Regions from separate parts of the Homo sapiens genome. Here regions 1 and 2 are each linked to region 3. Evidence: fine-mapped expression QTL. A gene starts in region 3. Each other region holds a variant in brackets. All regions are shown on one strand. Distances are from middle to middle.

Evidence for each region. PIP is the estimated chance that this variant, and not a neighbour inherited with it, causes the effect.
Region 1: its variant is fine-mapped to the expression of PPP1R3G in whole blood (TOPMed, PIP above 0.99).
Region 2: its variant is fine-mapped to the expression of PPP1R3G in tibial artery (GTEx, PIP above 0.99).

The regions. Positions count from the first base shown.
Region 1 is chr6:5,153,050-5,155,802 of GRCh38, forward strand. All of the region lies in intron 2 of LYRM4 (LYR motif containing 4), which reads right to left. All of the region lies in intron 3 of LYRM4-AS1 (LYRM4 antisense RNA 1), which reads left to right. Among named protein-coding and RNA genes, the nearest start is that of MIR3691, 6.1 kb to the left of the region's middle. The variant C/A (reference allele first, on the strand shown) is at 1,652.
Region 2 is chr6:5,056,924-5,059,676 of GRCh38, forward strand. The region is part of intron 2 of LYRM4-AS1 (LYRM4 antisense RNA 1); the gene reads left to right. It also overlaps a transcript of LYRM4 not described here. Among named protein-coding and RNA genes, the nearest start is that of PPP1R3G, 27 kb to the right of the region's middle. RefSeq lists enhancers at 431-480, 541-600. The variant C/T (reference allele first, on the strand shown) is at 1,637.
Region 3 is chr6:5,083,682-5,086,434 of GRCh38, forward strand. PPP1R3G (protein phosphatase 1 regulatory subunit 3G) reads left to right here and starts at 1,660. Exons shown (of 1, transcript NM_001145115.3): 1 at 1,660-2,753. The coding sequence starts at 1,805. The region is part of intron 3 of LYRM4-AS1 (LYRM4 antisense RNA 1); the gene reads left to right. It also overlaps a transcript of LYRM4 not described here. RefSeq lists silencers at 642-711, 742-1,021, 1,432-1,611, 1,862-1,961, 2,102-2,151 and 1 more and an enhancer at 1,942-2,631.

The DNA of each region.
Region 1 (2,753 bases), 69 kb after region 3:
ATACACTAGGCTGTTGGTTTTGTTTCTGTTGAACCATTGGTAATCTTATTATTATTTTTTTTGTGTGAGAGAGGGTCTCGTTCTGTCGTTCAGGCTGGAGTGCAGTCGTGTGATCTCAGCTCTGCCTCGCCTCCTGGGTTCCAGCAATTCTCCTGCCTCAGCCTCCTGAGTAGCTGGGATTACAGGTGTGCACCAACACGCCTGGCTAATTTTTATATTTTAGGAGAGATGGTGTTTTGCCATGGTGGCCAGGTTGCTGTCAAACTCCTGACCTCAAGTGACCCGCCCACCTCAGCCTCCAAAAGTGCTGGGATTACAAGTGTGAACCACCACACCTGGCGCCCTTGCTAATCTTAAACAAAACTAAGACACCAGGTCATAACACAGCAAGTCTCTTGTGCCTGCCCAGCTGGGCAGAGAGAAGCTGGACATCTGGAAACTAACTTGATGAAGTGCTGCTGTTCGGTGTGACCGGGGGCAACTCACAGAACCTTCCAGAGCCTCAGTTTCCTCTTTTGTGAAAGAGGCAATCACCAGTACCTCCTGACGAGTAAAGCCATGTGAAATACACACGGACACTCTTGGAAAACCTGTGGTTTTCAACAGTGATGCTCAACAAAATCACCTCTGTAAGTCTTCAAAAATACATCCTGATGTGTAGTCAGAACTGGCAACCACTGTTGTACGGTGCTCGACACATAAAGTAATCACTGATATATTGAGGGCTGTTCATGAACACTCAAATGAAATGACCATATATGCTGTGAATACAGACAGATACAATGAAAGACTCTAATAATTTTAAAACAGCAAACAGAGAGCCCGTCCCTTAGAAGTTGAACATCCCAGATAAAAATGCTAAATTGCAGCAATAAACCCTGAAACGCCCTAAACAGGGATATATGGAATGCTCTGATTGTAAATTGCTGGCTCTTCCCTACATCTAGTAAAGAAAATTACCTGCTAAATGTTATCATAAAAGCTACGGAAACATTTTTTTACCTAAGTTATAGAGTCAACCAAGAAAAAAACCCTATAAATTAGATATTCTAAATCTTTAAGCCACTAATTTTAATCAATATCAGTCTGGAGGTTTTAAATGACTTTCTCCTGAAACTCCCCACCCCATCAAGTAATTATCAGAAACATTGATTTCATTCCATATATTCAATCTTACAAGTTCATAAAATATTAGCCTATTAAGTTAACATAAAAATGTAATGCAGTAGAATGAAACAGTAGAAGGAACTCCATATAACACCTGCAAACTGTGTCTATAGGAGTCTGATTTTTAATATTTCACTGACCACCCCTATTCCCCCATCTCCAGCTCCCAAGCCCCAGGGTGGGTGAGAAAGGAGGTTGCAAAGGGCATCACGTGCTGGACAGAGAGTGGCATGCAGTATCTACGATCACACAGGACACAGATGGAAACATCAGAAGACAACCCAACACCTCATACAGATTAAAAAGAAAGGCGGATTCGGCCGGGCGCGGTGGCTCAAGCCTGTAATCCCAGGACTTTGGGAGGCCAAGGTGGGCAGATCATGAGGTCAGGAGATCGAGACCATCCTGACGAACACTGTGAAACCCTGTCTGTACTAAAAACACACAAAAGAATTAGCCGGGCGTGGTGTCACGCGCCTGTAGT[C/A]CCAGCTACTCGGGAGGCTGAGGCAGGAGAATGGCGTGAACCCGGGAGGCGGAGCTTGCAGTGAGCCGGGATCGCGCCACTGCACTCCAGCCTGGGCGACAGAGCGAGACTCCGTCTCAAAAAATAAATGAATAAATAAAAATAAAAAAGAAAGGCGGATTCACAAAGGTGCAGTAACTTCACCCAAATTACACAGTGTCAGAGGGGGGCATCAGGGTTCAGGTCTCCTCACCCCAGGCCTGGGACTTTTAATAAACAATGCCGTTCTAACAGGATGGTGGATGGGATGCATAGACGGAGCAAGAGTGACACAGAAGCACTGCTTCTTTTCTGTACAGAATTACTGAGTCCCCTACCCTGCCTACTGTGAGACGGATCTTTTATTATTATTATTTTTTTGAGATAGAGTCTTGCTCTGTTGCCCAGGTTGGAGTGCAGTGGTGTGATCTTGGCTCACTGCAAACTCTGTCTCCCGGGTTCAAGCAATTCTACTGCTTCAGCCTCCTGAGTAGCTGGGATTACAGGCATGCGCCACCGCCTGGATAATTTTTGCATTTTTAGTAGAGACGGGGGTTTCACCATGTTGGCCAGGCTGGTCTTGAACTCCTGGCCTCAAGTGATCTGCCTGCCTTGGCCTCCCATTGTGGTGGGATTACAGGTGTGAGCCTCTGAGCCCGGCTGAGATGGATTACTAATAAATACTACTACAGAAACAGGACAGTTTTCAGAGTCCGTCTTTACTAGGCTACTAGGCAATTCCTCAGCCACTGAGATCATATACACAGAAGGAAATTACTGATGCTGGTACTTTCCATCATTTTTCAGTAACTGGGTTTCACTGGCTGTGGGTGTTGGAAAGGCTGGGTAGTCATGCCAACATTTATATATCTTTTAAGGATGATACGTTGCTGAACCAGGATGTCAGGGAACCAGCCTACCAGAAAACCAGGATTCTCACACTGGTCCTGCCATTATTCTGTTGTAAAGTGTTGGGCCTGTTTTTCTTGGCAGCAAAACGTATGGATAGCCTCTCCCAGCTACTTTGAAGGCTCACATGTTAATGTACGGAGGAGCACTTAGGAAAGTTTAAGGCATTAAGCAA
Region 2 (2,753 bases), 27 kb before region 3:
CTCAAAGCAACGTCATACATTGGTAGTAGAAGTGACAAAATACTTCCTATTTTGTCACTGAATGTTGAAAAGACATGTACTCAAGAGTTGAGAGTTAATAAAATTAATTATTTTTATTGGTTTATCTAGGATATTTTTAAGTGATACGGGTAGGGCTTTATCCATCATTGCTTTTGCGGTATCAGTGCAAGTGTCCACAAAGTTAAAAAGGCAAATCATGTCTTAGCATTGTTATGAAAATAGTTTCAACCTCTCAACCCAACCCCCCTTTCCCCAAAGGCTCTAGGAGACCTGGGGGCCCACGAGCCACACCCTGAGGTCTGCTCTCCTAGCCTGCTGTCATTGCTAAAGCCTGCACGGGCTTCGACCTGAAGGGGGAGCTCAAGGCCTTCCCAATCTTCTTCCTTCCCTCTCCTCCCTGCCCACCCTTTCCCTCAACTTTGGGACAAAAGAGACCAGGACGGAAGACACCAAGGGACTCTAGCTTTGGAGTTCAAACTTCCCTCATTCCGGCTGGGCGTGGTGGCCCACGCCTGTAATCCCAGCACTTTAGAAGGCCAAGGCAGGCAGATTACTTGAGGTCAGGAGTTCGAGACCAGCCTGGCCAAGATGGTGAAACCCCCATCTCTACTAAAAATTCAAAAAATTAGCCAGGTATGATGGCGCCTGTAATCCCAGCTACTCGGGAGGCTGAGGCAGGGGAATCGCTTGAACCTGGGAGGCGGAGGTTGTAGTGACCCGAGATCGCACCACAGCACTCTAGCCTGGGCGACAGAGCGAGACTCCATCTAAAAAAAAAAAGAAAAAAAAAAACTTCCCTCATTCCTAGTGAAACGCTCACTTTTTTTTTTCTTAAAGAGACAGGGTCTCTCTCTGTCACCCAGGCGGAGTGCAGTGGTGCAATCATAGCTCACTGCAGCCTCGAACTCCTGGGCTCAAGCAATCCTCCCACCTCAGCCTCCTGAGTAGCTGGGTGCACCACCACATGTCCAGCTAATTCTTATTTTTTGTAGAGATGGGGTCACTTTATGTTGCCCAGGCTGGTCTCGAAATTCCAGACTCAAACAGTCCTCCTGCCTCGGCCTCCCAAAGTGCTGGAATTACAGGCATGAGCCACCACACCCTGCCTCTATTCAGTTATTTATATGGCCCATTCCTCCACATTAGGTTCCAAATACAACAACATCTCCTTCATTCCATTTTCCCGAGACCCAGTGTCTCCTTCTTCGGGTTCCACCTTATGAAGAGTCTACACGGGGCTCTCTGTGACTGGAGAGAGGAGAGGACCTGAGTTCCATGAAACCATGGGAGCCACTGCTTCTTTTTGTCACATGGGGTCATTAATGAAACCAAGCCTTGCACAGTGTGACAGCAGATGTCTGTTCAGAGCTGCTGGCCTTCCCTGAGTGCTGCCTGCTTTCTCAACGGCCTGTCCCAAGCCTGCTTTCTCATGTCCGTGGGAACAGGTGTTCTAAGGTCCGGGGCTTAACATCCACTTCCACACCAGCCATCGTTCTCCAAACCACAGCCACAGGGCCACAGAGAGTTGACCTGGGGGAGCTTCTGCACCCGCCACACAGTGGTTCCCCGCTTCAGCCTGGATTCTCTCTGTCCTCCTTTTCTGCCTCTGAGCCTC[C/T]GCCAGCTCCATGTGACTCAGCTTCAGGCATCCCTCGGGGGGAACCCATGGGCACCCAGTGTCCAACCTACCCCCTCCTCAGAGGACTCTTGGCTGTGTCTGCCTCCCCTTGCTATGTTTTGCCTTCTGCCTTCTTTATTCCCCTGTTATTTTTCCTGTTTTAGCCATGCTTGATTCGGTTTTACAGCCCTGTGTCTCCCCACTATTTTTATATATATATAATGCTTGAATGCTTGCTGCTTTGTTTTCCATTTTCTCTTTCTAGTTTAATGTTCTTTATATTCCTTTAAGGTAAAAATGTCTTGCTTCCAACTTGTTTTCCCTGATTTATCATTAACTGCTTTTAATTGAAAAAGTAATAAAAGCACATGACGAAAATGGAAAGAGATGAAAAGCATACACAATGAAAAGCAAGCAAGACCTCTGCTCTCCTAATCTCTGTCTCCAGAGGTGACACTGCTACTGGCTTCTTGTGTTTCCTTTTAGAAGTCCTCTATATGGCCAGGCATGGTGGCTCATGTCTGTAATCCTAGCACTTTGGGAGGCTGAGGCCGGAGGATCCCTTGAGCCCCGGAGTTCAAGACTAGCATGGGCAATATTGAGAGACCCAGTCTGTACAGAAAATTAAAAAATTAACCAGGTGTGGTGGCACACACATGTAGTCTTAGCTACCCGGGAGGCTGAGGTGGGAGGATCCCTTGAGGCCAGAAGTTCAAAGCCACAGTGAGCTATGACGGTGGCACAGCATTCCGGCCCGTGCAACAGAGCAGCGCCCTGTCTCAAAAAAAAAAAAAAAAAAAAGTCCTCTGTGTACATAAGAAGCACACTCCTCCCCTTTTATTGCACTAATAAAAACTTGGTATTCACACAGTTCTGGGCCTCTCTGATTTTTTCTTAACTCTGTATCTTGGGGATTGTTTCATATCCGCCCAAGAACAGCTACTCGACTCCCTTCCCTGAGTTTCCATTAACTGAATTCTTGTCGCAGGAAGAGGACTGTGGTCTGTCAACACACCTGGACATGCCTGCTCTGCGGCCCCATCAGACTTTGTCCCCAGGCCATTGTATGCTCTTCAAGTTCATTGAATCATCCTAAAAATCCTTTCCTACCACCTAA
Region 3 (2,753 bases):
TCAATCAATGTAAGCTCTTAACACGCTCCTCACCCACCATCTCTTTTGCCTGCCCTCTGCCAACATGGCTAAAACCCTGGCCCCTTTCAGTTCTGCCAAACCATGACATGTTTTAGTTATGAAGCCCCAATTAATTACGTTTCTTAATTAGTGGTTCTGTTTCTAGAATCCCCAACTTTCTATATAAGTAACTGAATACACATCCACATAGGTTTAAATACGGTCCCCAGAGCCCAGCATCAGCATCCCCTTGTTAGAAATACTTCCAGGCCCCAGCCCAAGCCCACTGAGTCACAAACGCTAGGGAGCTGGGAGCAGTGGGGGGCGCCTGTAATCCCAGCTACCTTAGAGGCTGAGGCGGGAGGACTGCTTGAGGCCGGGAATTTGAGACCAACCTGGGCAGCATAGCAAGACCCCTATCTCGAAAAAGTTAGAAAGAAGGAAACTCTGGGAGTGGGGCCCTGTGATGTGACAACGGGCCCCCGAGTGATGTCCGTGCATGCTGAAGTAGAATCACTGACTTAGATGGCCCTCAGGGTGGCCTTAAAACCAAAACAAGAAAAACACCACTTTTAGACGTTCCCCCAATCCCTAGGTACCACGACGCGCTTCCCCACCCCTCCCCGGCCTCAGGTTCGGGCCTTGGCCCCTGGCAAGGCCGGAGCAGCAGGGCGGTGACAGCGCAGTCCGGCGCGGGCCACGCCCCCACTCCCGGTGGGCGGGGAGGGTGCTTGGGGCGCTGGCGTCCGGTTGCGGTGGGAGGTGGTGCGTGCCGCGTGGGCGCCGGCCCCACGGGGCCCCCTCTCCGCCCTCCCTGCGGGATCCCGGGGCGCGGACTCGCGGGCGCGTCGGGCGGGACAGGGGGAGGGGCGGGACGTGCTCCCGGGCCTGGCGCGAATGGCCTCCGGCCGCTCTCGGCTGCGGGCCATGGCCGCTCCCCGGCGCGTCCCCACACGGTCCCCGCCCCAGTCTGGCCGCAGCCCACCCCGCGCCGCCACTGGGCAGATGGGGGCGGCGGCTCCTGCCTCCCGGCTTTCGGAAGAGCAGAGCGGAGCGCGCCTGACCGAGTCAGGCTTCCGAGTGGGATTGGAACCCGGGGCGCCCTGAAGTTTGGGGAAAGCAGGAGCAGAAGGGAAGGGATGCGCTCCCCGCTCTCCGGCGGCGCGGAATGGGCCTCCTTCCAGCCTCTGCGTAGGCAAGATTTCCCCAGTTGCGCGCTGCACCGGGGACTCCCCAGCCCGTGAGGCAGCCAAGAGGAGAGCGCTCAGTGACCCTCTGGGGGCAGAGCCGTCAGGCCAAGTTCATGGGCAGGAAGACTTTGTGCACGTGGGGGTCTCTGAAGGTTGAGCGCGAGCTCTGCACCCCCACTTCGAGGCACTCAAGAAGCGGAACAGACGCGAGCCCCGCCGGGGGTGCGGGTGAGGGCTGCAGGGAGCCCGCGAACGACAGAAAGTCGCCCCCCGCATTCCACCGGAGCACTCGGGAACACGGCTTCCAGGTGTCCCAGCGGCCGCGCCTCCCCGCCCCCGGCCCTCCCCCGTCGCGGGCAGGTTCAACCGGGAGGCGGCGTGGCCCCGGAGCCGGCCCCAGGCCCGCATCCTCCTCCCACTTCGCCCTGGGCAGCCGCAGCTAAAAGCCGGAGGCTCCAAAGTGGAACTACGTTGTCTTGTCGAGCCTGGGGCGACTCGCCTCGGGGAGGGCGAGCCTGAACTGCAGCCCTGCGCTCCTTCCACGGCCCGAGGAGTTAGTTAAGTCTCCAGAGGGGCCCGGTTCGGCCCGAGCAAGTCCAGGGGCGAACGGCGTCATGGAGCCCATAGGGGCGCGGCTAAGTTTGGAGGCGCCGGGACCAGCGCCCTTCCGAGAGGCCCCGCCGGCCGAGGAGCTGCCCGCCCCGGTGGTCCCCTGTGTGCAGGGTGGCGGCGACGGCGGTGGCGCTTCGGAGACCCCGAGTCCTGACGCTCAGCTAGGGGATAGGCCCCTGTCCCCGAAGGAAGAGGCCGCCCCCCAGGAGCAGGAGGAGCTGCTGGAATGCCGCCGCCGCTGCCGCGCGCGCTCCTTTTCCTTGCCCGCCGACCCCATCTTGCAGGCGGCCAAGTTCCTGCAGCAGCAGCAGCAACAGGCGGTGGCACTGGGCGGCGAGGGGGCGGAGGACGCACAGCTCGGCCCGGGCGGCTGCTGCGCCAAGTGCAAGAAGCGGGTGCAGTTCGCGGACACGCTGGGGCTAAGCCTGGCCAGCGTGAAGCACTTCAGCGAGGCGGAGGAGCCGCAGGTGCCGCCCGCCGTGCTCTCGCGCCTCCGAAGCTTCCCTATGCGTGCCGAGGACCTGGAGCAGCTCGGGGGGCTGCTGGCCGCGGCGGCAGTGGCCGCGCCCCTTTCAGCGCCGCCTTCCCGGCTCCGGCCGCTCTTCCAGCTCCCGGGGCCGAGCGCCGCGGCCGAGCGTCTGCAGCGGCAGCGCGTGTGCCTGGAGCGCGTGCAGTGCTCGACGGCCTCGGGCGCTGAGGTGAAGGGCTCCGGCCGGGTGCTCAGCTGCCCTGGGCCCAGGGCCGTGACCGTGCGCTACACCTTTACCGAGTGGCGCTCCTTCCTGGACGTGCCGGCTGAGCTGCAGCCCGAGCCGCTGGAGCCACAGCAGCCAGAGGCACCGTCTGGGGCCTCCGAGCCAGGGTCCGGGGATGCCAAGAAAGAGCCAGGCGCCGAGTGCTTCCACTTCTCGCTGTGCCTGCCCCCGGGCCTGCAGCCTGAGGACGAAGAGG